Linked DNA regions of Homo sapiens. The protein of the gene in region 2 binds, or shares a complex with, the protein of the main gene of each other region. Each region holds a gene or a part of one and is shown on either strand. Other genes may lie near its edges.

What was found.
Region 1: MAP3K20 (region 2) and AKAP13 share a complex: the UniProt entries of both Homo sapiens proteins name them as parts of the signaling complex.
Region 3: MAP3K20 (region 2) and NOD2 share a complex: the UniProt entries of both Homo sapiens proteins name them as parts of the signaling complex.
Region 4: MAP3K20 (region 2) and MAP2K3 share a complex: the UniProt entries of both Homo sapiens proteins name them as parts of the signaling complex.

Annotation. Positions count from the first base shown.
Region 1 is NC_000015.10:85,579,603-85,586,626, reverse strand, and holds part of AKAP13 (A-kinase anchor protein 13), read right to left. Parts: coding exon 4,520-7,024; intron 926-4,519; coding exon 804-925; intron 1-803. UniProt on the Homo sapiens protein: Scaffold protein that plays an important role in assembling signaling complexes downstream of several types of G protein-coupled receptors.
Region 2 is NC_000002.12:173,071,252-173,078,852, reverse strand, and holds the start of MAP3K20 (mitogen-activated protein kinase kinase kinase 20), read right to left. Parts: upstream 3,008-7,601; 5' UTR 2,851-3,007; intron 2,783-2,850; exon of another isoform or gene 2,397-2,782; intron 1-2,396. UniProt on the Homo sapiens protein: Stress-activated component of a protein kinase signal transduction cascade that promotes programmed cell death in response to various stress, such as ribosomal stress, osmotic shock and ionizing radiation.
Region 3 is NC_000016.10:50,696,589-50,703,612, reverse strand, and holds part of NOD2 (nucleotide-binding oligomerization domain-containing protein 2), read right to left. Parts: intron 6,666-7,024; exon of another isoform or gene 6,370-6,665; coding exon of another isoform or gene 6,297-6,369; intron 4,234-6,296; exon of another isoform or gene 4,126-4,233; coding exon of another isoform or gene 4,118-4,125; coding exon 3,659-4,117; intron 3,644-3,658; exon of another isoform or gene 3,536-3,643; intron 1-3,535. UniProt on the Homo sapiens protein: Pattern recognition receptor (PRR) that detects bacterial peptidoglycan fragments and other danger signals and plays an important role in gastrointestinal immunity.
Region 4 is NC_000017.11:21,280,902-21,287,734, reverse strand, and holds the start of MAP2K3 (dual specificity mitogen-activated protein kinase kinase 3), read right to left. Parts: upstream 3,025-6,833; 5' UTR 2,815-3,024; coding exon 2,766-2,814; coding exon of another isoform or gene 2,409-2,765; intron 1-2,408. UniProt on the Homo sapiens protein: Dual specificity kinase. Is activated by cytokines and environmental stress in vivo. Catalyzes the concomitant phosphorylation of a threonine and a tyrosine residue in the MAP kinase p38.

The DNA.
Region 1 (7,024 bases), on a different chromosome or scaffold from region 2:
CATTGCTGAAAACGATATACTTCATAATTTAGACAGTTACTATTGAGCTATAAAGTAAAAATCTCATTTTGGCTATCAGTTTTTATATAAAGAAAGAAGAGTCAGGTTTAAGAAGGGTTTATAGGCCGAGTGCCATGACTCACATCTGTAATCCCAGCACTTTGGGAGGCTGAGGCAGGTGGATCACTTGAGGCCAGTTCGAAAACAGCCTGGCCAACATGGCAAAACCCCATCTCCACAAAAAGTACAAAAATTAGTCAGTCATGGTGGCGCATGCCTGTAATTTCAGCTACTCACAGCTGAAATTAGGCAGGAGGCGAAGGCAGGAGAATCGCTTTCACCCAGGAAGCAGAGGTTGCAGTGAGCTGAAATCACACCACTGCACTCCAGCCTGGGTGACAAGAGCAAAACTCCATCTCAAAAAAAAAAAAGAAAAAGAAAAAGAAGGAAAGAAAAAAAGAAAGAAAAGGTCTATAGATCCCCTTTTGTGATAGCTCAGATTTTGTGACAATTTAAGCTTACTGACAAATCTTAAAGCCTTGTGCTCAAGGGGAAAATGTTTTTCAGCATAATCTATAAGAAAACATGTAACAGCCCATTCCAAAACTTTGCTGTATGGTATATACCATTTATGAAAGCTTAGCTGCAGCAACATAAACACATTTATATAACAGCACAAGAGGGAAGGGGGAAAATACTATTTTGCCCACTTACCCTCAAATAAAAGACAAAGCCATAAATAAGACACAGCAGAACAGGATAAACACATTTTGTGCCCTTATAGACTTACTGATGCCACTTACCGCCTGGGTCATTGGGCCTTGCTTCATCTTCAGTGTAGCAGCTATGCTCCCTACAGCCACTTCTTCAGAAATTGAACTTGCTCTAAAATCCACTTCATCTTCAGCTTTCACGTCTGGCATTTCTGAAAGTGCAGGGGGGTTACAGAGTACATTTTTAAAAACTGATTCCTGTGCCTTACTATTCATACAACATGCTCCAGGTTTCATGTGTTTTGTTTTGCTTTTGCGTTAAAATGGAAAAGTATTCTTTTGTTGTCAGCGGCTAGTGTCATTTCTGACCCTATGCTGAGCTATTCCTTTATCGCATGGTTACTGGTTTTCCCTAGCCTTTGTAGGCGCTTGGAACTAAGCGAGGATCCAATTCAATGTCTTTTGAACATCCATTTCACTATTGACTTTTTATGACAAATCTGAGTGTAGCACCAACTTGCATATGGAAAACTAAATTCATAAGCTTCAGGGGAACAGATTAATAGCTGAAGCTAGGTAGTCCATCTTGGCCATCATCAAAAAAGCAAGGATTTGTACAAAACAAAAAGGAAAAAGCCACTGAGAATGAGAAAAAGCCTCTGGGACAAGTATGACTTTCACTAACATACAACACACTCTGATCCACCCATCACTGTAACCAGTAAGAATGAACTACTCAGCAGTTACGTCTTATTTTTAACCCTTATTTCTTCCAAAACTGAAACCTAATCACAGACTAGCTATCCCTTTCTTAAGAGAAACGTTTCTGCGCATGTTTTCTCAAGAATTACATAGTTGTCCTCTTGCTGGCCATGTTGACAGACCAAAAACAGTGGTGGTTTTTGTTACCTGACCACCACATGGTCAAGCAAATACAGGAAGGAAATGATAAATGATGTCTGAGGCAAATTTAGGCTTCTGACACTTCTTTAAACGGGACTCATGATTGAACAGTCAAAATTCACCTTAATAATCCAAATGCAAATGGAACTGTCATCTCGATTTCATGTGGAAATGCATCTGTGGTTATTAACCTAGTGATGCCACTACTCTGGCAAGAAAAATGCTCCCCACACTAAAGAGCACAGAAGTTTCTTTCACCAAAGAATAAATTATATTAAGATTTTATTCTAGGAGCACATGACATGTACAAAAGTCTACCTTAAATTTGTAAGAGTTACATTTCTATAGATGAACCTCTTTTCTTCCTTCTTTGACCTTATAATTATATAATCTTACCAGCAGTTTAAAAATGGGTAAACAAGTTTCCTTGCCCAAAGAACCAAAATCTGTGTTAAATTTCATAAAATGTTATTAAAGTTAAAATCTGACTAAGCAATCCCCTTAGAACTATCCCTTGATCAAAACATCTCTAAGTGAGTCAGAGTAATTTCTGGGGGGAAAGAGGGTTGCTTTCCTCTGGGGATGTGATTTTTGGTACCTCCTTCCTTTCCTATACCTATCAACTTTGAAAAGATGCATCTTGGCACAGCAACCAGTCACACTAGAAAACAGTGATTACTCACACTTGACGGGTGTCGGCAGCCTCTGCAGGACTGGCGTGGCTCAGTCATGCATCACTGATTTCCTAAGCACTGTGGTCAATGCTTTTGGTGGGTCAAGGGCCACATCCCCTTCTTTCAAACTGGCTCCTTCCAAATCAGCAGTTAAACCTATGTCTTCTCACTCACAAAACAGTATGATTAAATCTATGAGTAGAATGTAAACTTGATAGAAAATACCCTTTGGCTCTGAGATCACACTCAGGTGCTTTTTCTCTAAAGTAATGTGACCAGGGATTTTCCCAATCCTGGCCATTTTCTGAAGAAAGTACCAATTTCTTCATGACTGGCTACTTTCTCTGTAGTCTGAGACCATCAATACAGAGTTCCTCTGCAGTTTGAGACCATGAGTATGACTCCTTTTGGTAACAGGACAAGTAACTCACCTACACAAAATTTACCAACCTCAAGCCCATATATACTGCTGAAAGTCCATACATTTTTCTTCCTTCTCAAAACCTCAAAATCCTAAACATCCGTCATTTCTCACCATCTTTACTATATGTGCTAATAAAAATCAAAGTCTGAAATTCTCCCTGGTTTTTACTTTTTCTCATAGGATACTACAGACACAATCCCCACAGAGTTCACACTTGCTTGAGTCAAATTCTGACCACTGAGCCAGAAAGAGAAATAATTCCGGCCCATGTGGCCAAGGACGCAGCACCGAAATGAAAAGAACATCACCAGGCATCAGCTTACAGCCACTCCCATTCTTCTGAAATGCCAACCTGCCAGGGCCCCCAAAATAGACTTGTTGTTGTGGCTTTTTTTAAAAATTAGAGACCTCATTTAAATCCTGAGACAACAGCCAGCAAGTATCTATCACTAACAATCCAAAACATTAATAAAACTAAAAAGCTAAAGTCATCAAAAATTCTACCTCGGATTCCTTAAATCCCTCAACTGGGGAGGAAAAAGATTATAAACGGCTAAAAGCCCTTTACCAGGGAAAATAACCACTGTATTTAAATTGCGCTTCTTCCAAAGCAACTTCTTTTGCTCCATTGATTCATTTCTCTCCATAACCCTCCCCCACATTCTTAATACATATGTGTAAAGGGATTTTCAAAAATTGAAAAGAACAGCAAAAATAAACAATAAAGACAAAACAGGCTGCTTCTTACCTACAAAAGCCTAGGGGCAAGCATGGAGATAGGTCTTCTGTCTACAGCTGGTAACAGGTGGTGGTATAGAAGTGTGCATCAAACTGACCTTTAAAGACTTCAGGAGCCAAGATCGTGTCCGACTCCCGTTTCAGCTTCAGCCTCAACCCCCGTTAAGAAGTTTTATTCAGATAGTTTATTTCCACGGAGCAATAGCGGTTTCTCTTTGCTGCCTCGGAACATGGTTACCCACAGATGGAACAGGCTGCTGTGTGAGCAATCTGCTCAGTGCAGCTGCTTCACCAAGATAAAGCAGACACAAGGTCTGCCCTGTGACAGCAGCTCAGCAGACTGGGCTTGGGCGGAAATCCTGCATCCTATCCCCTGCACTGTGCAGGGTCTTGAATTCTCAGACTGCTGCCCAAAAGCAACAGGCAATGGAACTAGAGGTCCACTCCCCAAGCAGGAAAAGGAAGGAGTTCCCCGTCAACAACACCCCTAGCCCAAAAAAAACAAAAACAAACAAACAAAAAACCACCAATGACCTAATACCACCATTTTGGATGTTGGGAAGTCAGCTCAGAACAATACTTACAGCTGTTCATGAAACCACTCTGACTCTAAATTTGCTCAGAATACAGACTAGGATGATAGGGGAGGAAGGGAGTTTCAGGCTTGTAGATAAAACACAGCTTTTTGGCACTGTTTTCTATGGTACTAGAGAAAAGGATTAAGCCATGTGAATAAAAACATCTGCTAAATTCTTTCACCACTTTAGAGTACCTGTGATCTAGGCATTGTTTTCTAGGTTTGCAAAGTTGCAACCACTCCAGAATGAGACAGGAGTGTTTATAAGCTTAAGCAACCAAGCAGTAAGTCTACAATACAGGAAGCAAAATCTGTCCAACCCTGAGATGACGTGCCCCTCCTGATGGTGGTGACTATTAACTTGGCTACCTACCCAATGAGTGCAAGGCCTCAAAACAACAAAGATGCCTATATTTTTACCAGGACACCACAGTGACTCTTAAGGGAATCTGCTTCTCAGACTGTTAATTTTGTATTATGTTTTGCTTACCTGCTGCTGGCTCAGGCCCCTGGACAGGTAAAATGATCTTCTCTGGCTCCTCCCTTCCAGCAAAACATCCTGCAAGGCTCCCCGTGGCTTCCTCAGGAGTACTGCCCATTGGTAGGCTCTCCCCAGGTGGGAAAGTACTCACTTTTTCTGTAAAAGCACTCTCTAGTCCTTTAGTGAGAGGACCCAACTCAGGGCTGGACAGTGACATGTGACAGGCCTCCCCCTCAGTAAGCAGTGCTCCAGCGGCCTTGACTTGTTCGATGACAGCATCCACTATACGGCTGGCAGCCTCCTCTATCAAGTCTGCCCCCTTAGGCAGAGGTGCGTCCTGGGCAGAGACCATGCAAGGTAGAGAGGGAGTGCTCCTTTCCCTGCCTGAAGGCGGGGCTCGCATGACTTCCCTCACACCAGCTGGGGCCCCATCATCATGGGCTGAGAGCTCCATGTCTGTGGGGAGCTCCTTGGCAACAGGCTGCAGTAGGACAGGATGTGCTTCATCGTCTATTTGGGCTTCCTCAGCGTCACCCATGGTACAGCTGTGGTCTGCTCCCTCCAGCTTCCCTTTCTCCCAATCAAGAGGTATCATCTCTGGGGTTCCAACTCCCTGTGGGTCAGTCACAGCTTTGTCCTGTAGAGCCACTGGCAAACCTAGAACGGCATTCTTCTCTTGGCTCAACAAGACGTTTGGAATCAGGATGTCTTGGGTGTTGTGTGATATATTCTCTCTTCTGGGCTCAGCCATACCTTGTAGAGCATTAACCCCTGTAACATCCACCGTCACATCTCCACTCACCTCACAGGCACTAGTTTTTCCCTGGGATTGAGTGTTCTTCACTCCAACATCCAGAGGAGAAGGCTGACTGCAGTTAAGAGCATCGGACCCATCAGACCCATCTGGCAACAGACATGGCAACAGAGCGGAGCTGTTGTGCTCTGCCCCCAAGGCTTCCTGCCTTGACTCTGTGGCCAGACTTGCTCCTGGTGGCACCAGGCTCTGGGCAGCCCCACCTTGAGTCAGCAGTGAGACTTGTGGGGCCACTTCCTTGTTATGTTCAGTTTCTGCCTTAAGAAAGGCAGAGGATGCACCCGGTGAATTACTTAGCTGAAGTGCTTTGTCCTTGGCACAGTCAGCTGAGATTGATTTTTCATGAAATTGTTGAGTATCTTGTCCAGGAGGTGGTGTTCTCTGCTCTTCCTGCAAAGTTCCTGAAGAGAGAGCATTTTCCTTAATAGAGGAACAGGTCACCGCTTTATCCTTATCTTGTTCCTGAGCTGCAGAGCTTTCTGAAACCACCAGAAGTTTTCCTTCTTCAGTCAAAACTGAATCTAAAGCCAAAGTGGCCTTACCCACACTTTGCAGGGAAGAGTCAGTGTTCCCCTTGATATTCAGAGCTTCTGGGATTGCTGGAGGGGCGGGACCCTCATGCTCTCCACCAAGTCCTGTGAGACTGGTATTCCCCATCCCGTGCTGAAGCTCTGCAGCAGTGGAGGATGTGGACAGGCCTACTGCCCTGTCTTCTAGTGGCCGCGTATCAGGCTCATTCGAATTTCCATCTGGGCCATCTCTATAATCTGTAGCTGTATGTAGTTCAGGAGTTGCTGTTCCCTTTTCTTTCTGGGAGGGGACAAAAGAAAGTGCGTCATCCTTGGTTACTGATTCACTGCCTGGACTGTTTGCCAGAGAGAAAGTACTGTCTGATATTACTGCCTGGTCTGGCACCAGTTCTTTCTCCATTTTAGGGACAACTGGATGTGGATGTGAAACCACCTCAAGCATATTTGTTAAAGGTTTATCTAGTTTCACATCTTTTCGTTGGCCTTTGTTATCCACCACTTTGAAAGGACAAAAATCCGCACGTTCCTGGGTATCCCTTACAGGGTCAGAGGTGACTGTATGAGCCTGTGGGTCTTCACAGTGGGAGGCATCGGGTGGATCTTGTGAGCTGGGTTGCCTTGCTGTGGTGCTTTCGGACTCGCTAACTATGTTATCACACAGTTTTGCAACCAAATCGCCACTAGAAGTCACTGTGTTCTGTTGACATGCAGAGTCTGCACAAAGTTTATCGTCTCCAGTTGTAGAACAAATGGGTGAGGATTTGCCCTTTTGGCTTTGAGCATGAGATGAATTTGTTTCTGAGTTCTGGTGTGGCATTACATCTTCTTCCAGCCCAAGAAGGGCTAAATCTGAGGGTGACATTGCCTCACCTATGCCTGCTGCTAAGAGAGTATAAGGTTCTAATCCATCTGAAATCTTGTCTTTTGCAGCAGCTGGAATCACCACAGAATTCTGATCTACTGGAGCATCAGCACTCTCCTCACGACTTCGTGAAGTTTCCGTTTCTGCTGTTTTTTCAGTGGAGGTTTCTTCATTACTAAATGCAAGTGAAGACTCAGCAGGTTTGTTACCATCCAGGGAACTGGCAGCAGGGGCACAGTTTGGAACACTGATTTTATCCACAGGCTTACTTGTGACGTGCACGTCAGAGGCTCCAGCTGTGCCAATAT
Region 2 (7,601 bases):
ACCATATCATGTCTTTTTGTTAATAACATTCTGCCTCCTCCTTCTAATTTGCCTTTTGTTTACCCTATTTAAACTATTTTCTTATTACAGTAATTACTGGATTGCTCACCATCCACCTAAAGTTCAATTTGAGGCTTTAATTTCCTATTACAATTGAAGACACTGGGGTTAGGGTGTCAAATGTGGGGCTGCTTTGTTCTCACAGATTCTTCTACTGTGCTGGGATTACTTAACAGCTATTAGGACGATGCTTCAGCATCCGTAGGAGGGTCTGACATAAAAGCACCCATGTATCAGTCGAATCAATCTAAGCTCTAGCATTCATAGTCCTCTTCCCTTACCAGGTACAATTTTCTGGTCACAGCTGGAACTCTGCTTATTTGTGTCTAGTGGGGCAAAGTTAATAGCTACCAAAAAACTAGCCTAAATCTTCCTTGCAGTAAGACCAAAAGGTGCCTTAACTGTTCCTACTACATTTAGATAGACAAGATACTCACCCTGTCAATCTGTCCTGGGTAGAATAAAATGGAAAACAAGTGATCTAAATTCATTTTTATTTCCAACATCTCAGGATACAGACATAGGGCTATCTTATTCCAAGAAGTATTATATCCCCACAAACATCTTTTTCCAGTTTAAACAAAAACAAAAACAAAACAAAAACAAAAAAACCACTGATTCTCTCCTCTCTTCTGAATCTACCACTTTCTAAAATAAACTGTCCATTTTGCTCTGTCACTCCACACTAATAGCTTCACCTTACATCTGACTTATTTTCATGAAAAGTTTTCAGTGTTTTCTCTGATGATTCGATTATTCACTCCACGCCCCCACAAACCTATTTATAATTTTGTAGCCCTATCAAAGTCAGTTTCACTGCTCATTCCAGATAGGCTCTGAGCCAATATATTGCCAATAACACTCACTCTTGTGCTAAGTTAAAATACACAGTGCAACTTGCCAAGTTTCCTTATTTGGCAAGAAGGCCCCTTAGTTCCCAAGATCTTTGACCATCCATTTTTAGATCCAAGTCCGAGTGTTTAATATTTGGATTTTTTTTTCTCTCTTTACTGTGTCCTTATATATTCCCTAAAAGATTAAGAAAAACGGATCAATCATCTATTTGCTTTTTTAGACAACGGAGAAAGTCCTTGCAATTGCATCATGGTCATTTACTCTGGAATTATTATCACTAAATTTTTTTATTTAAACAATATTTTGTAGTTAAAAAACTCCCCAAATAATCTCAAAAAGTTATAGTAGGAATTAAATTGTGATAGATTAAAATAAACAGTGCAGTGGTCCAAAAGACCATTTTTCTTTATCTTAATTCTGTTTTCCCAAACTAAATTCGTATTCATTTACAATCTCCTAAATCTCTCACTATAGTAGCAGGAATTTAAAACAAAGACTCTACAAATGACCATAACCATAATTAAAATGCAGCCATCACTTTTTTTTTTTTTTTTTTTTGGAAAATTGAAAAACAAGTGAAATTTCACTGTGGAGATAGGCCTACTACAAAGAGGACATTAACTAGCCTTGAATCACTTGTTTATTTTTGTCTTTAAACGTGTTTGGAGGTTTGGATCCACTAAATCCTAGCTGTTCATTTCAACGAAGGTCGAGGAAGCAAGAAGGCTCTTCCAAAACAGCTTCGGGGTTAAAGAAGGAGTACAGTTTTCAACAATCTTAAGTCAAACATCCTCAAATTCACTCTGTAAGACGATTCTCACACACCAGTATCGAGAGCTGCTTACTGTACCATACTTGGAATGGGCCCCTAAATTGTGTTGCTTTCATTATTACAGAAACTAACAAAAATAGTAATTAAGTTCCCCATAAACAGTACTTATGCGCGATCTCAAAGCGCATCAGAAACATAACATTTTCAGCGATCTAACAGAGATAACTTTTTAAAAAAATTTTTTAGGCAATCGGATGTCATCTAGCCAGTCCTGAATTAAAGTTTTCTGAAAGCTGTCATGGGCAAGCGAGGCCAGACGAGGCGACGGCCTGGGTAAGCACTTCTGGGCCTGGTGCAGGTCTGGGAGCCCACAAAAAGCCGCTGCCTGAGGGTCGCCAAAGGAGACATCCCCGGCTCCGGTGGGAGGAAAGGGGGAAGCCCGAGAGGGCGGGCGCTTCATGCTGCCCAAGCCCGGGGCAGGAAGGGCGGGGAGCGGTGGCTCTGGATACATTTACGCATGTTTTTAAAACTAATCTTTAGTGTTCATTGTTCCTGCTGGTTATTCGCATGGCCTAATTGTGTGAGGAAAACAGAATGAAGGAAAATGGATGGGAAGCAACACCGCTCGCGGTCGAGTTCTTAGAAAAGCAGAAGTTCGTCGTCCCTCCTCGCACGCACAGCGAGTGCTGGGAAGTGGCCTGCACCCTACCCTGATTTGGGGGCCTCGCGGTTCGCCTCCCGACAGTGCCCCAGTCACCCGCTGCTTGGCCGGCTCTGCTGCTCGCGGAGCCCCTGCCCGTGCCGCACGCCCGGGACCGCGAAAGCCGGGGCCGCTCCGGCCTGCGCCCGCGCCTCCAGGCGCCAACTTCTCCATGGGACCGGCCCGAACTCTCCCGAACCGCACTTGGCGGCGCCGCGGCCAAGGTCCCGCGAGGACTTCCCGGGCGCCGCGAACGCTCGCTCGCTCGCCCGCCCGCTCGCTCCGGCCGCCGCCGCCGGGCGGGCCCTGGGTCGGGGAGGGGAGCCCCGAGGAGCCTCCCGAGGCCGCCTAGACTCCCGGGCTCCGGCGGAGCCTCGGCCCCGAGACGCAGGGACGACTCGCGAGCGCGGCGGGCCTCGCCCCCTCCCTCCCCGCCCTCCGCGGGCTCCAGCCTGACCCCTACCTGGCTCCCGGGCGGGGCGTGAGCAGCAGCCGGGGGCGCGGAGGCCCCGCGCGCGACGAGGGCGGCGGGGGTTGGGACGACAGCGGCCCGCGCGGCTCCCACGTTTCCGCTGCAGTTAGGAGTTGAACATTCCGCCTCTCTGCACGGCGCCAATGAGGAAGACAGTCACGGCAACAGCACCACCTACCTCCCGGCGCGAAACGGCTGGGCCGCCCTCCCCTCACACGCGCGGGCGAGCGGGGCGTGGGGAAGGCGCTCGGGCCTCCCTGGCCTGCGCCCGGGGGGCACCATCCGCCCCGCGCCCCGGCACCCGCCGAGGCCCCCAGACACACCTGCCTTGCTGTGGGGGGAGGGCCGTGGGGGTGTTCCCCCTCGCCCCCAGCACCTTAACTCATCTTTTTGACAAATTAACACCACCTGCTACTCCTTCAACTCAGTCTTCAACAAACAGGCGCTGGGGACGCAAAGAAATAGAGGCTGTTTTGTGCCCCGCAAGAGTTAATTCTCTAGTTGGGAAAGGCACAAACGTAGAGATTTCTGGGAACATAGGTCTGAAGGCTGCCTCTCTAGAAAGATCAGTAGGTACCTCTGGAATTTTGAGGAGGGGCCGTGGTCTGCTGCTCTAGTTGCTAATTTTAACAGAGCAGAATTCAGAAGAGGAGCCAGAGTCCGTTACAGGCCTAAGCCAAAGGTGGAGGTGGGCGTTGGGAAGAAAAGAAATTTCTGATTGGGGAGGATGGTTCTGTGAAGGAAAAGTGAGAGGAGGTTGCAAGGGCATGGGCAACATTATTCAGGATTTTGAATTTGAATTTTATTATCCATGGACACTGGGAGCTGTGAAAAATTAGAATCAAAGGGGTGAAATGGGGGTTTGTGATTCTGTTTAAATGGTAATTTTGAGAGAGTAGTCCACAGTAGTTGTAGGTTGGGTTGCTAGGATGGAACCAGGATGAGTAGTAGATATTGTCACCACCCGGTTGTGGGATCATGAGGACCTGAGTTAGGATGTAGGAAATGGAATTAAAAAGAAGAAATGGGCTGGGCATGGTACCTGTAATCCCAGCACTTTGGGAGGCCAAGCTGAGAGGATTGCTTGAGACCTGGCTGGGTAACACAGTGAGACCTCATCTCCAAAAAAATCAGAAAATTAGCCTGATGTGGTGGCATACATCTATAGTCCCAGCTACTCGGGAGGCTGAGGTGGGAGAATCGCTTGAGCTGGGGAAGTCGAGGCTAAAGTGAACCACAGTCGCGCCACTGCACTCCAGCCTGGATGAAAGTGAGACTCTGTCTCAAAAAAAAAAAAAAAAAAAAAAAAAAAAAAAAAAGAAGAAATGGAATTGAGAGAAATATTAAACGTTTCAGCAAGAGGCCACAGAAATTGGTAACCCACAAGATTTAGAAGAGAAGAAGAAGAGAGATGATGCCAAGATCTCAGACCTGGATGACTGGAAGAATGATGGTGTCATTGACAAAAATAGGAATACGTGAAAGGGAAGCTGGCTTCATGTTGAGTTTGAGGTCATAGGAGTAAAAACAGGTAGAGATGCAGCAACTGAAATATGAAACTGAAATTCAGGAAAGAGGTCAAGAGTGAAATAGAAAATTTGTAAGTCATTCAATAGGTTAAAGATATGAAAGTTGAGGGATGAATGAGTAGAGGTTAAAAAACAATTTATTAGTCTGATTAATTTGCCCTTTGATAAGGACTGGAGATTTTAGCATTAATAAATTTTATTTTGGTAACTGAGAAATTAGAATTGATGAAAATTGCCATGCTAAAAAAATGTATAATGCAGGTCTAATAAAATAATTCAAATAATTCCATCCTATCCATTCAAGGAAAAACTAAGGCTCTTTAGCATAGACCCCAGGCATAGGAAGACTCCAGTCATTTTACCTTACCTTCAGAGGCACTTGTTTGTTTTGGAAAGGACCCTAGACTGAGAGTCAGAGAACCTGACTTCTGGTCTTAGAGCTACCAGTTATCAGCTAGAGTGCTTTGCAGGATAGGCCACAGTTTCCTCCTCTGTAAAATAAGAGGGACTAATTAGAAGTTAGTTGCAGGTTCCAGCTTTAAAACCATGAATGTATTGCTTTAAATTTGGAACACATGGCTTAAGAGCATCAATATTTTTAGCCACATTGCCCTTGCTTCCCATCCCTTTGCCTTCATTCTGTTTTCCTCACATAATTAGGCCAAGAGAATAACCAGCAGGAACAATGAACACTAAAGATTAGTTTCAGAAACATGCTTAAATGATAATCTAGTAGACATTTTCTTGTCTTCCCAAATAGGTTGCAAGCCCTTTGAGGTCACATCTTATATTGTGTGGTATCTGCATATGTATTGTCCATAGCTGAAATAAATATATAATGATTGTATGATAAACTGATTGCCTCAAGTTTGGTTTTTCTTTTGTCAAGCTGCCTGTTTCCTATTGATTATACTGATCTTTTTAGGCCCCAGACCTAATAAATATGGTCTAGTATGTATTCTCAACACCGACTGCTTTTTTGAACTTTCAAATCTTTTTTGAATTGGTTAATGCTCACCAGGCAGAGTTTAGGTTTACCCGTGTGAAAAGCAATAACAAAAGAGACCTAGTCAAACTTCTCTTATCAAACCTGCCTATTCCTTTACTTCAAATGTTTCCACACTAAAAATAGATGTACTCTTAGCAGTGAGGTGGCTTGGAAGTCCTTAGCACCCTCTTATATCCAAGAACATTCTCCAAAATAAACATGCAATCTAAGTTGAAAAATATAAATATAGCTTAAGGAAAAACTTTCCTATCCCCCTATTCAATGGGACTGTTTCTTCTAAGCCCCTCTTCAAATAGATATTCTGAAACTGCCACTAGCTATCAGTGGATGAGAAAAGTGCAGACATAAATTCTACGAATGGCAGAAGGAATGGCAACTTAAAAGGAAGAAAGCAGTCTTTATCCTCCCCTCCTCTTATAGTGGTAAGAGTTATGGCACAAGCTGGCACCCAGGGGCATTTTCTCTAGCCGTCTTAGTTTTCCATCTTAACTTGTGAATAGTCTATGCCTGGATCATAGCTAAGAATTACCCAACTTTTATGCAAAGACCAAGGCTTTACCTCCTGTACAACTCTGAATCCCTGGGAAATTAAGGTATATAATCAAACATCCTTTAAGTCATTTAACCATTGCCTTAAAATCATAAATGAAGCCCAGATCATTGTTTGAGTTTAGTGTTTACATCTAACTTGAGGATCAAAGAGATTTACAGGAATATGCAGGATATCGAGCTTATTTAGGCACCCTGGGACATGAAAGGAGCGGTGTGGCAAGAAGACATATTGAAGACTTTTACAAAATGTATTCAACAGGCATTTACTGACTGCCAGGCACTGTGCAGAGCTTTATGATTATAGCAGTGAACAAGCATGGTCCCCTCTCTCACAGAGTTTTCGGAGTGCAATGGAAGAGCCAGCAAAGACACGAGCAATTACACTATGGTATGCTCTTAAAGGGGCAAAGATTGGGGCTTACAGCAGGGTACCTAGCATAGTTTTGAGAGGTCAATGAAGGCTTCTAAATCAAAGAAGCTCGAAGTTAATACAAGAAGAAATGAAGAGGATTTGCTGGACAAAAAGGAGGGAAAGATATTCCAGGCAAAGGAAACAAGTGCAATGGCCTGAGAGCATTTAGCAAGTTCAAAGAATAAGTTCTTCATGTATCTGAGTAAAGACATCACCAGCAGGGAGTAATAGCCCTCATAGTAGTGGTAACAGTAATAGCAGAAGCAATAATAATAATAGATGGTTAATATTTACTGAACAGTCATACGCCATGCACTGAATTAAGAGTTTTACACAGACGTCTTCCCATTTAGTCTTCACAATAACCCTAGCAGGTAGTTTTAAGTCATCATCCCATGCTATGGGGCCAGAAAAAGTCTTGGAAAAGTTGGGCAACTTGCCTTCCCTCAGGGAGCAAAAGGTAGACTTTAGGCTTGTTTTTTCAAATCAAGCAGTTCTCAAACTTTTTGGTCTCAGGACTCCGTTACACTCTAAAAAAGTCATTGAGGATGCCAAATAGCTTTTAAGTGAGTCATATCTATCAAATTTATTATATTAGAAATTAAAGCTGGGCACGGCGGCTCACGGCTGTAATCTCAGCACTTTGGGAGGCTGAGGCAGGTTGATCACAAGGTCAGGAGTTCGAGACCAGCCTGGCCAACATGGTGAAACCCCGTCTCTACTAAAAATACAAAAATTAGCTGGGCCTGGTGGCAGGTGCCTGTAATCCCAGCTACTCGGGAGGCTGAAGCAGGAGAATTGCTTGAAGCAGGACTTGGGAGGCAGAGGTTGCAATGAACTGAGATGGTGCCACTGCACGCCAGCCTGGGCTACAGGGCAAGACTCCGTCTCAAAAAAAAAAAAAATTAGAAATTAATCCATTTAAAAATAATAAGCCAATAAGCCTATCTATGTTAACATAAATAACATTTTAGTGAAAAATAACCATTGCCCCAGATTTTTAAAAACTGAAAGAATACCATTGTTTTACATTTTTGCAAATCTCTTTAACGTTTAGCTTAGTAGACAAAAGTTGGATTCTAATATCTGCTTCTGAATTTAATCTATTCCAATATCATACTACATATATCCTCTGGGAAATTCCACTGTACACTCATGAGAGAGTGTCAATATTTTTATGAAGAGTTCTGACCTTGCAAACCCCCCAAAGGGTCCCCAGGCTGCATTTTGAGAACTGATA
Region 3 (7,024 bases), on a different chromosome or scaffold from region 2:
TCCCGGGTTCAAGCAGTGCGATCTCGGCTCACTGCAACATCTGCCTCCCGGGTTCAAGCGATTCTCCTGCCTCAGCCTCCCGAGTAGCTGGGACTACAGGCACATGCCACTATTCTTGGCTAATTTTTTGTATTTTTAGTAGAGACGGGGTTTCTCCATGTTGGCCAGGATGGTCTCGATCTCCTGACCTTGTGATCCACCTGCCTCAGCCTCCCAAAGTACTGGGATTAAAGGCTTGAGCCACTGCACCCAGCCTAATTTAAGTGACCTTTCTTTACACAGCTATTTTTGGCTTGCTACTCAGTTTTTCAAAATAGAACAATACATTATTTGGGGATTTATTTTAAAAGATGCTAAAACATTAAAGAAAGGCAAAGAGATGATTTACACAAAAGTCAAGCCAGTGTTTACCTCTAGCAGTTGCAGTTAAAGAAGGCCCCAGGTACTGGCAACATCCTGTTTTTTAACCTGGGTGATGGGAACAGTTTACACTATACATATGAAATATACACACTCTTCTGTATGCATGGTGCATTTCCCAATTTAAAAAATGTTTAAGTTAATATTGTTATAGGAATCAGGCAATTCAGAGCTCAGTCTGACACCTCAGCCCTATCAACTTTAACAGTTGCATGAGTCAGACGGACAGCTGGTATTACAGCTGGTGTTACCAGCCTCAGGTTTCCTAACAACTGCTATGCCCAACTGAGCAAGTTTACCACACAAAGCCCCCACATTTTATGACAGACAGAGAATAGCACAAGCTCTGGAGGAAAACAGGCCTGGATTCAAATTCTAGCTGGGCCGCTTCCCAGATGGGCGATTTGGGCAGTTTCTTCATTGTTAAGAAACAGTGTAGTCACACTATACCCTTGTGAGGCTTAAATAAAACAATACAGGGAATGGACTGGGTACAGTGTCTGGCACACAGTAGGAATTCACTCAGTCAATAGTAGCAATGGGTATTTTTGGAATTTAGTTCTTTAACTTGCATTTTGTTTCATTCCACAGCATTTTCTGTCCCTAACCTGCAATCAATGACAACTACTTCTTTATAGGAAATTAAAAGGCCATTTGGGAAGACATGTTGGTTGGATATACCACAAGCACCATCCAAATGAAATCAGTAAGGCCACTAAGGGAAGGCCACCAAATCAGAGTCACAGAATGTCAGAGCTCAAAGGGAGCTCAGAGAGAGCTGGATTCTAAAGGCTTAAACCTCAGGCAGTGCAATCCTTTCAAAATCTCCTGCTCTCCTCAGATCTGTTGTCTCCCATCCCTGCTACCCACTCAGCTCAGTCCCAACCTTCAATGTTTGCTTTTGCTGTCTATTTAGCCCTTTCTTAAGATGAATTCTTAGCTCATTAAAATTCAGCCTTAGATGGGCGCAGTGGCTCATGCCTGTAATCCCAGCACTTTGGGAAGCCGAGGGAGGAGGATTACTTGAGCCCAGGAGTTTGAGACCTCAACATAGCAAGACCCTGTGTCTACAAAAAAAAAATTAGCCTGGTATGGTGGTGCTAGCCTGTGTCCCACCTACTTGGAAGGCTGAGGCGGGAGGATCACTTCAGCCCAGAAGTTCGAGACTTCAGTGATTTATGATCGTGCTACTGCACTCCAGCAGCCTGGGTGACACAGTGAGACCCCCATCTCAAATAAATAAATAAACAAATAAATAAACAAATGCCTTCCTTCTTTCCTAATCTAGGCACCTAAGGTTGTAAATTTCCCCCTATGTCCTGCTTTAGCTGCATCCAATAGATTTTGATAAATAATATTCTCATTATTGTATGGTTCTGAATATTTTCTGATTTCCATCATGATTTCTTCTTTGACCCATGAGTTATCCCATTTCTTTTCTTCACCAATCCATGTACTTCCTCTGTTCACATCCTGTCTTCTCTGGGCCCTAGGGATCTAGGCTACCTTCTCCAAACCCCTCAGACCATCTGTACCACATCACATTGCTGAACTTTTAAAGATGACAAGACACAATCTTGTAACTTCTCAGATGGGCTGATTCAATTCCCCTAACAAATTATAAGAGAAACTAAGGTCAGTCCAATAACGAATATGTCTTCTGTACGTGCAACTAATCAGAGAGGACTGCACCACTTCTGCTCTGTAAATACCTAGCCATGTGAGCCAGCTTTAGTGCAGCCTTGAAGACAAATTTATTTATGTCATCAATCTCAATCTAGGGTTATCCAGACTCATGTGAACAACACATACATTTTTGGAAAACAGACAAAAACAAAAACTAAAATGTTCCCCAACCCAGCCCATTTTAACACTGCAGTGTCATTCTAATTCAATCATTCATTCAGTAACTCACTTATTTCATCAACAAATGTTTATGGAGTACCTACCGTGTGCAAAGCTCTATGAACACAACAAACTTTAAGCAAATATGTATGAAGCACCTAATAGATTCTGGCTGAATAAATGAATGATGGATGAATAAGTCAATGACCAGTGCTGGCCAATTGGTCCAGCACTGGCCCCCTCATTAACTACTGTGAGCTTATTCAAACTACTTTCCTTGGTCTCAACTTCCCGATTTATAAAGTGGAATGTTAATGATTGTTCCATCTGCCTCTCAGGAGCCCTAAGAATCACTATTTGGAAGAAAACAAAAGAGTTTCAAAAATACTCAGTGGTCATTTCTCTGACCTTCTGGTCTCTGCTGAGTTACTACATTCTCAGGGGCTGTTATATACCAACTCTGAACATCTATGATCTAATGCAATTTCATGTCAGAAATCCTACATAAACATTTAAGCTATATTAGTTTATAATATGCTATGTTAATTATAAAATAAATTCAATATACTGCAGTGTTATGGTCTGTTGTGCTGTTAATTTAAAACAGACAGAAATAAAAGTGTACAAGTACAGAGTATCACTCATAACAGAAATAATAAATAGCAGCCAGTGGTAATAGACACTATCCTAAGCATTACTCAAATTAACTCACTGAATCCTCCCAAGAGCCTTATAGGATAGGCACCATTTGACTATTAACATTGTTTTGTAGATGAGGAAACTGAAACAAGGGAGACTGAGGCTGGAGAGGCTCCATAGGGAAGCCTGAGATCACACAGGGTTGACCTTGAGCCTGCACCATTCTGGCTCCAGAATCTGAGTTCCTGGCCACCACACACTTCCTCTCGGCAGAAGTGTTCTGTTGGCCAGGCAAAGTGGCTCATGCCTGCAATCCCAACAGTTTGGGAGGCCAAGGCGGGAGGATTGCTTAAAGCCAGGAGCTGGAGACCAGCCTGGGCAACATAGCAACACCCCATCTCTAAAAGAAAAAAAAAAAATTAGCTGTTCATGGTGGTACAGCAGCCGTAGTCCCAGCTACTCTAAGGCCAGAAGATCACTTGAGCGCAGGAATTCAAGGCTACAGTGAGCTATGATTGTGCCACTGCATTCTAGCCAGGGTAACAGAGTGAGAAAAAGAAAAGAAAAGAAGAAAGAAAGAGTTGTACGTTTCCTGCCAAGAGTCAAGAGCAAATTTTACCTGCCTGGCTACCTTTTTAGGGGAAATCCCATGGACCAAGTTACCCCACAGGCTGACTTCATGAGGACAAATCAGTCTTGGTGACTAAGCACCCCTTTCCTGAGAACTCTGTGATGCACACCAGGAGTGCCTCACCCTCTGGGACGGTGTGAAGATCGGCAACCTGATTTCATCACATTCATACTGGCTGACGAAACCCCGCTCCCATGCCAGGTCCAGCATGTTCTCCACATGGCTGTGGAGCCTCCTGACAATGGCTGGCCGGTGACTCTGCAGGTCTCGGGCTGGGTGGAGCGAGTGGGGGTCCCAGCAGCCATGCAGCTTGGGGGACTGGCTGTCGGCCTGGGCTTCTTGGGCAGCCGCGATGAGCTTCTGACAGGCCCAAGTACCCTTATTCCAGACGGTGTCCAGAAGGCGCCTGGCCAAGTGGGAGAGAGGCTGGCCCAGGAGGTGGAAGCCCTCGTAGTCCTCCCAGGAGAGGACCTCCCAGGACAGCAGCCAGTCCAGGACACTCTCGAAGCCTTCCAGGGACCCTGAGACCAGCAGCTCGACCAGCTGGCTCCTCTGTGCCTGAAAAGCCTCCTGCGAGCACATTTCACAACCTGGGGAGGAGAACAAGGTCAGTGCGGGACTTCTCCAGAAGCCAGATGCAGGGTGGTCAGGGAAGGCCAGGGCAAGTCAGCCCCAGCAGAACCCGAGTTGGCCATGGTTCTAGCCTCAGACATTACCCAATCCAAGCTCCCCACCATATAGATGTGAAAATTGAGACCCAGAGAAGGCAAGAAACACCTCAAGGTTCCACAGAGTTTGAAGCAACCAAGAATTAAATCAAGACCCCTAACTCCCATATCCATGCTTGGTCTCCGGCTTAAAACGTTTAAAAAGGCTTGAGGTAATATTAGGAGCAAGAGATCTCCCAAGGTCACTTGAGATCAGGAGCGCTAGACCAGCCCGGCCAACACGGTGAAACGCTGTCTCTACTAAAAATACAAAAATTAGCCAGGCGTGGTGGCGAGCGCCTGTAATCCCAGCTACTCAGGAGGCTGAGACAGGAGAATCACTTGAACCCGGGAGGCAGAGGTTGCAGTGAGCCAAGATGGCACCATTGCGCTCCAGCCTGGGCAAGAGAGCAAGACCGTTTCTCAAAAAAAAAAAAAAAAGACAGAGAGAGAGAGAGAGATCTTCCAAACAATCAGGGAATTCATTCTCTTCGAAGCAGGGTGAGAGGGGCTCTTTCATGCTGGCTGGATTCAGGCTACAGCAGTTTCAGTAACGGCTAATATTAATTAAGCATAAACTACACACCAAGTGCCATTCTAAGTGCTCTCCTGCAGGAATTCACTGAACCCTCCCAGCCACTCTGAAGTAGTGCCTATGATCTACCCATTCTACAGAGGAAGACACTGAGGCACCAAGAAGCTAAGTGATTTGTACGATGTGTCACAGCTAGACAGGCAGAGTCAGGATTTCAACACGAGCCATGTATGACTCCGGAATGCATGTCTCTAACTCTTACATTTGGGTTCCCCACGGGGGCCCCAAGCCCGTGCTGTGTGTTTTGCACACTGCTACTCCAAGGGGTAGACTCAGAATATTGCTCTAAAGGTCCTGTCCTAGGCGAAGTGAAAAATTACGGTGCAAACTAAGTTGTTTCCGAGCGTTCTGGTGCCTTGTCCCCCATCAACACTTCCCACACACACTTGCCCTAGGGCCCTCACCTCCCTCCCACGCCCTCGAAACCACCGTGCACAGACTGCTGCCACTGCTATCATCAGTGACCTGCTGTGCGTTCTGGGAATTTGAGGGCAAGTGACCCTCCAGGAGCTTCAAGCCCTGGCAGGGTCCCTGAGCAGCCAAGAAAATCTCTCAGCATGGTCAGTTCTGCGATTGTCATGGGGTCTGTGGACAAGGGCTGCTGCAGTGCCCCGAAGAAACGAAAGTGAAAGGGTGTAGGCATGGACAACAAAGAGGGCCGTCAGCTTCTTTTTATAAATCAGGGACATTCCCAGACACTCAAGGGAGCAGATGCCAAGTGGCCTGGGGATTTTACCTCTTTCCTGATGGTTGTTTATGTGTCTCTCTCCCTGCCTGGGCCACGTGGGAGCCTGGGTCTTACTCGTCCTGGCATCCCTGAGCCTGGCACAGCATTGTCCCCCACAAAGACACTGAGGGAATGTTCATGAATCAAATATCCCCTGGGCTGGGGGTGGGGGGAACACTCTGTATCCGTCCTCATACGGTAGCCAAGGTAAGCAAAAGGAGAAAGCTCCAATCTCTCAGAACGCTGCTGGGGCACAGGGGGCCCTGTGCTGGTCAGATGGGGAAACTGAGGCAATGAGGTTACTTGTGTGTCTGGCTGCTTGGGAGAGAGGGTGTACCCCCCTGCAGAGGCCACTGGAAGCCAGGATCTAAGGTAGTTCTCTCAGGCCAAGGAGTTCTCCTCCTTGTGCCCACATCTAAGCAGAGGAGCCAAGAGGGTGGGGTGGCCGAGGACAGGGGAAGAGAGGACAAAAAAGGGTAGAATAAGCTCTGGGCTTGGCCCTGGAGTGGTTCTCAGCTGTGGAAACACCAGCCAAGGATGCGACAGCGGCCCCCACCATTGACCCTGCCCAGGTCCTGGGGAAAAAAACCCGCCGACCCATTCTCCCCAGAAAACAGCCCAGAAACAGAGTCAGCACTCCCCATCTGACCCCAGGCCTGGGAGCATGTCGCGGCCAAGGATGAAAGAAGGCTGAGGATCAAGCTGGGACGGGACAATGCCTGCTCCTCTTACCCGGAGAATGTCCGAGGAGGACACTTGCTCTTTCCTCCTCATCGTGAGAGGCTGAACCACCCTCTTCCCCCATCAAAGCCCATTAGGCTGGGGGAGCAGGCATGGCATCTGCGGGTAGGCCTTGTGCAGAACGCCAAAAGCCCAGTGGCACAGGACTGGTGAGCCTGGATCTGTCTACCAACCCCACCTTCAAGGGAAATTCCCAAAGGAAAAGCCGGAGGCCAGAGTTGGCCAACCAGCCTTCCAGAACTAGGCAATTCCAAGCAATTCTGGCACAAAGCCTTGTGCATCCTGGAGACCATGACCCTCACTGAAAAACCCCACTGGGGACATGAGACACATTCACGAGGGGACAGGCCACAAGTAAGTAGGGGCCCCTCCCTTGCACACCAAGCCTAGGGCAGCCTGGCCTACGTGTGAGCCATACACACCCCAGCTAGTGACGTTGGGCTTCTGTGGACACCAGGAAGGGGAGGCCCGCCCAAGCCACGTGACTCGGAGCTCTGTCCTCCCAGCAGCTACATCACCACACCTCTGCCCTGGCCTTCTTCCAGAAACCTCAGAGCAGAGAGAATCCTGAGGGCCAATTCAGCCAGGCCCTGTCTCTGAGCAGGCATTGTCCTGTCTCATCTTAAACATCTGGGGAGGAGAACCTGGCCTTAGTGCTGTTCTCACTAACCAGCTCAGGAAGCTCACCAGCTTGGGAAGTTAATCATTATGTCTAGCTT
Region 4 (6,833 bases), on a different chromosome or scaffold from region 2:
ACACGTGTGGTACCCTCCAAGGACAAATGTGGCTTGCACACATGCCCCCACCCACTGGCCCCAGCGCCAGCCACTTGGCCTCTAACCCCAGCCAGAGATGGCCATGTGGGCAAGGAGGCCAGGGGAAAACCAGCAGAGCTGTGGGCCTGAGGGCCTCACACACTCATAGAAAACTCCCCAGGCCCATGGCATGGAAACAGTGCAGGGCACCTGCTGCCAGGCAGGAAGCTCAAAGGTAAAGCTCCAGTAAGGTCAAGCGCCAGCCACTCCCTGCTTTGTTCAAATTCCTTTGAGAAGGTGGAGAAGGGATCAGTGCTGGGAGGCCCAGTGCCCAGGATGGGGTGGGCACAGAGTGAGGCTCTCCACCTATGGGGGCAGTCCGGCCACTCCTCCATCCAAGCTGAGTTCTGCATCTGTCAAATGAGTGGGATTTTGCAGCGAGAATGCAACAGGCCCAGTGTAAAGCGCTGTGCACAGGAGAGGCATCACCTCTGCCTCAGTCTGTCCTCTAGGTCTGACGTGGCCATGAGGACAGGCCCACTGCACATGCTCTGAGCAAGGCCAGGGGTGGGGGCACCCCACCAGCTCAGCTCAGGCATCCAGCATGGGAGGGGCACATAGGGGAGCACGGGGAAGGCCACTGTGGAAACACAGTCCTAGGGGGAACCCTAGCTCCGCCTGTCACAGCTGTGTGGCCTCAGGCAAGGCACTTAACGCCTCAGTTTCCTTATCAGTAAATGGGGCTATGAGGAATAAATGAGAAAATGCATGGCACATGGAAAAAAAGAAGGAGCTCATAGGGTTTTTGGTGAAGGGCATTGTGGCTCTGCCACCACATCCTTCCCCAGACCCCAAAGAGACTACAGAGTCCCTGGGCCTGAGGGAGGTCCCTGACCCTCCATCCAGCCCCCTCAACCTCATCTAGGACCTGGGTCCACATCTAGAAGTTCATTTTGGCCCTCTCACAGCATTCTCACTGCATCTATGACCCCTCTCCTTTCACAACTCTGCAACTGGAACTTTTATTTTGATGAGGCATTCTCTGCCTGGAGAGCTAAAAAGCCTCCAAAACAAACAGTGCTTCCTACCCTTCCCCGAGCTCTCCAGAGTGGAGAAGTGTCTGATTTCCTGGTTCCCAAGCTCCACGAGGTCTGTGCAGTGCAAGTCCCTCCCCAGACACCTCCCCCGTCGAGTGCCTCCCGAGTTACTCACAGTGGTTGGGCAATGGTCAGGGATCCGGCCTCCCACTTATGTAAGGCATAATTATCCAGCCCACCCGGCTCCAGCCACCATAGCAGCCAGCAGCAGGGGCCAGGAAGAGCCCATGCCCTCCCCAGGCCCACATAGGGCTCCCATTGGCCTGCACCCTCCAGAACAGAAGAGCGGCTGACCCCTGATGAAGTGCCCACTAGGTGCCCGCTGCTAGGTGCTTCCTCCTGCTCACTCTGAGGCTGCACTTCCAGCAGTGGAGGCCTTTCCAGCAAGAAGAATGGAAACAATAGCGAGATGTGTGCAGCCAGTGTACCCTGGTGAGCACCGGCTCTGCGCCAGGTGCTACGCTGAGAGAACGCCTCAGAGCTCTTTACTATTCACCACCCCACACCACACTCCCACGTCCACAGAAGCAGGTGCGATTACTTCCAATTTACAGAAAAGGAAACTGAGGCCCAGAGACACCAGGGAGCTTGCTGGGGTGAAGCAGCTGCAGGTTCAGAAAGCCAGGAGGCAGCCCATTCATTACGGCTATGTCCGGTTTGGAAATCTCTCGCACAACCCAGCCTACTGAAACTCCGACGCACCAAAAACATCCTTTCCTCTTCCTGAAAAAAAAAAAATTCCCCTTTTGCCCTCCGAGTTTCATCCTTCCCCCTCCGCATGACAAATCCTGCTGCTGCCACCTCACAAAAATTTCCAGGAAGGCCAGCTACTTGGAGAAGAGCAAATCCCTTGCACAGCCAGCACCCTGGCCTGGCGGCTGGCCCAGATCCCAGGCAGCCAGGACAAGAATAAGATGGGGTGAGAACCCCCAGTGCAGGGAGAAGCTTGCAACTCAAGACAGAGAGAGGCCGGTAGAGAGGGGGCTGTACCTTAGGGAGGGGTGGGAGGACAAGGAAGGTTCCTGGGAGCCCAGGGCTGCAGGACAGGGTGCAGGCCAGCCAGGGAAGGGGCAACATAGGGCCTATAAGGATAAGAAGAGCTGGGGGAGAGAAGGACGGGGAGTTCCGAGCTGGGGTGTAGCCAGAGCACCCGCATAGGGGGTACAGTGAGGTCCGCAACAACAGGAGCACTCTGGGGCCCAGATGGAGACTCAAGTTAAATCCCAACCTGGATACAGCCCTGGGACCCGAAGCTAGAAATGGGACTGGGTGCTGCCCAAGGACCCAGGTGAAGGCCAGTGTGAATCTCACCTGGGTCCCGCTGAGGGAGAAGACTGGGAGAGTTCATGTCCAGGCTGCAGCCATAAGGCCCAAATGAGGTCAGAATGAGGCTCCTGACTTGGATGGGGTGAGCAGAACAAAGTCCTAGTCTGGGTCCAGCCTGGGTGATCTCGGGCCTGAGTGCAGTCCCAAGGCCTAACGTGGGGGTCCAGGTGAGGGCCCAGGCGGGGGCTGGTCCCGGGACCCCGAACAGGAAGGGGTTCCGGGACCGGACGCCGCTGCCAGGTCGAGAACAGGATGGGGTGGGACCAAAGAAAGGTCGGGGTTTGCAGCCCGGCCCCAGATTAGGCGCGGGGTCAGGCCGAGGTCCCGGCCGGGAGCGCCTACCTTTGGACTGGGGCATGCTGGCGGGCTGGCTCGAGGCGGGCGACTCCATGCTGCAAGTGGGTCCTGGACGGCGGTGGAGACTAATCTAGAGGACTGCGGGCTCCACCGGGGCCGAGCACGCTCATGGCTGCGGGCAGACGGCCCAGGCCAGGCGGAGGAGCAGCGGCGGCGGCGGCGGCGGCGGCGGCGACTGCGGCGAGGACTGCGGCGGCGACTGCAGCAAGGACGAGTCCGCGACGGGCGGCGCCGGAGACAGACTGGGCAGCGCCGGGGAGACCCCGGCCGAACTGCGCTGACTCAGGCCCCGCCCCTGCGTGCCCGATTGGTCCTTTCGTTTCCAAGGCCCGTCCTCTGCCTATCAGACGCCGGCCTGTCCCTGCCTGTCAAGCACACGCCCCACCCTCCTTAGGCCCAGGATCCGGGCCCCTCCCGCTCTCTGTCAAGTCCGCCAGCCGCCCGAAAAACCCAGGTCCGGTCAGGCTCCGCCCCCTGGACTAAAGCCGCGCCCCTCGCGCTGCCCGTCAACATGCAAGCCCCACCCACTCCCGGGACCCACTGAGCCCGCTGCTCCCTGCAGGCGCCCAGGCCCAGCCCGGCACCCCCAGACCCGCAGCCCCGGCGGGTGCGATGCGCGGGCGCGTTCTCCTGGGTGCGTCGTCTGGAAAAAACCCGAGATCCCTAAAGGTGGCACGGCTGGGCCTGCCGAAGTGGGCGGGGGTTAAAAGTGCGCTGCTGGGCTGCCTCCTGGCTCTCTGAACCTGCAGCTGCCTCACCCTAGCAAGCTCCCTAGTGTCTCTGGGCCTCAGTTTCCTTTTCTGTAAATTGGACCCGGGTTCGGATCCGAGTCGGCAGCTTTGTAGCGGAACTAGCCTTGGTCAGGTGGTGACACCTGAGCCTCAGTCTACGCATCTGTGAGCGGGCGGCGGTGACAGCTATCTCCCGGCGCTGCTCGCTAACACGCACTGAGGGCCTGGCGCCAGCAAACGTCGCCCGCGCCCGCGCTCCAGGCGCCCGGCCAGGGCGCGGGGTCGGTGGTGAGCTCAGCGATGCCCGGTGACGAGGCAGCACGAGGAGTTTTCGTGGCTGGTTACTGCTGCCCCTGTTCTACACAGGGGGAAACCGTGTCTCAGAGGGAGTGAGGCGGCATGCGGTGCATTTTATCCCGCGAGCCCCGAGGCCCCATCCTGGCTCTCTCCTGGACCTTCGTTCTCTCCTCTCCTCCTAGGATCTCAGTCTGCCCATCTGCATAATGGCTGGATGGGCCAGTCCTCCCTCTGCTCCCACACGGAACCTCGGGGGATTTCAGGAACCGCTGACCAATCTGGCGCTGGGAACAGATGACTCTGGATGTAAAGCCAGGGCTAGTGAAGGCAGAATGTACCAGGCAAAGGTCAAGGGGTCAGCCCCTGGCCTCCAGGCAGACATGTGTACCCTGTCAGGGACCTCACGTGAGGGAAGCAGATTCCACCACCTGCTAGAAAGGCTTGAGGCCGGGCCTGACCTCTGCTTGCCCAGGTGTAAAGTGGGGGTGATGCAGGGCCCCATGCACAGAGTGGGGAGCCACAGGAGATAAGAGGGAAGCCTTGCAGCCATCACCATTCTCTTCCTGCGTCTCCTGTTCACCCTTCCCAGGCAGTGGGATGGAAAATCATGAGTCTGGGGCTCAGATAGGTATGGGTTCCAATACCAATTCCTCCACTTACTAGCTGGATGACCTTAAAGAAGTCACTGAGCAGCTCTGTGCCTCAGTTTACCTATCCCATGGGGACAATAAGGTCTCTGAAAGCGTTTCATGAGTTCAGGAGTGGAAACACCTGGCCTAGGGCTTGGCACTCACTAGGTGCCCAGGAAATGTGAGTTTGAAAACACTGTGGGCTGCCTCCATCCTTGCCATATCATCCCTGGTGACCTGTGCTTATCCGTCTGTAAAATGGGCATCCAGGAGCAGCTTCCTTTCTACCAGAACTGCAAGGCTAGTCCAGCGAGTTTTCTGGGTTCAGGCACTGGCCAACAGCCTTGACTTCTGCACAAGGCCACACTCCGCCTTGTGCACTCTGCTTCTTGGGATGTTCAAGAGTCTCAGTATTGCCCCTCAAATGTGCCAGGGATGGTCCTGCCGCAGCAGCTTCACCCTTGCTGCTCCTGCCCAGAACATTCTTCCACTCAAGCCTCCTGGGGCTGGTTCCCTCTCATCCCTCAGACCGCTTCCTAAATGAACACCCCTAAGAGGCCTTCTCATCATGGTCCCCAGACTGAGGCACAACACTTATGCTGCTGATGTCTTTGTTACTGACTCAGTTTTTAACACAGCTCTCCCTCCAGACCATCCGAGCCTCATTCCCTGCTGTGTTCCCAATGCATAGCCCAGAACCAGGCACATAGTAGGTGCCTGATAAATATTTGAGGAATGAAAAAAGGAAGGAGGAAAGCATCCACAGACCAGGGTGAAGCGACTCCAGTCCCGTGCCAACCTCCTTGGCGGCCAGATGACTCAGACAGGCCCTCGCATACAAGGAGTTTGGGGATTAGTCAGGAGCCCGATAAACAGCTCAGGAATCACAAAACTCCATGTGAGTGCTATAAATAGATGCATGAGCAAAAGTCCCAGGAGGGTGCCTGGGTGATGCAGCCATCTCCATCTGGGTGGGGACAAGGAAGGCCTCTCAGAGGAGGTGATTTTGAGACTGGACTTTTAAGGACCAGTAGGAGCTTACCAGGCAGAGAAGCAAGAAGAGCATCCCTGGAAAGGAACAGCAGAGGCAATGGGTTGGAGATGTAAAAAGGGCCACACATGAGGACCAGGTGAGGGCCAGACTGGGATGCACAGCTGCACCACTGGAGCTCAAGAAGTACCATCAAGAACCATCAGAGACAAAGGTCTCTTGCTGGCTTGCTATAGTGACATCTCTTGATTTCTTTCTGTCTGTAAGTGGCACAGTCAGATTGGGGAACTCCATGACCATGCAGAAAGCAGAATAAATGTTTGACATGGGTCACAAGAGGCTGCCTCTTACCTTGATTCCTAGGAGAAAAGTCCCAAACCTGCTCTCTGTGGATGCAGGAAACTGAGTCTCTGGATGGGAAGGATTGTGGCCAAAGTCAGGATGCAAGCATGATCTGAGGTGGGCAGGACCTGGGGTGACAGAAGGCTGTAAAGAGAGGCTGACTCAATAGCATTAACTATAAGTTTTGTGCTTCCAAATCACTTTTTGGTTTTTAAGAATTTCTTGATACTATTGTAGCCTGCCTTCGATTTTGATCCTTTATTCTTTCTATTTGTCAGGTGCACAAGATTACCTTCCTTTTTTAGCCTTCTGTCTTGTCACCAACCATTCCTACTTGGTGGCCATGTACTTGGAAAAAGGCCGCATGATCTTTCTGGCTCCAATCAATGTCTAAGGCACCCTGCTTCCTTTGCTTGCATCCCACAGACTATTTCCCTCATCCTATTTACTACAGCAAATCTCTCCTTAGTCGATGAGATTGTGTTTATCTCCCTTTAAAACCCTACCTATCCTGAATGGTCTGTCATTGTCTGCCTTTAAAATCCTTCCTCTTTCTTCTTCCTCTATTCTTTAAATAATGATGGGGCTAAGTTATACCCAAAGCATCACTTTACAAAATATTTCCTCGGTACTTTGCAGAAAACACCAAACAAAAATGCCATTTTAAAAGAGGTGTATTTTTTCTTTTAAAATGTAAGCTCCTCAAGGGCAGGGAAATGTTTTCTGTATGTTCTATTGTGCCTAGTACACTGTAAATGCTCAATAAATACTGATGATGGGGGAAAAAAAAGAGAGAGGCTGACCCAAACCCAGGATGTGGGCAGCTCCTTCATTCATTCAACAGATATTCATTGAGCACTTACTGTGTGACTGGCACTGAGAACACAACATTGAACAAGATGGACACAACTCCCTGGGGAGGTATGACCTGGTGTGTGAGCCAGACAAGCAAAATGCCTAAGTCAAATTATGTCAGGCCAGGCATGGTGGCTCACACTTATAGTCCCAGCAGTTTGGGAGGCCGAGGCAGGTGGATCGTTTGAGCCCAGCAGTTTGAGACCAG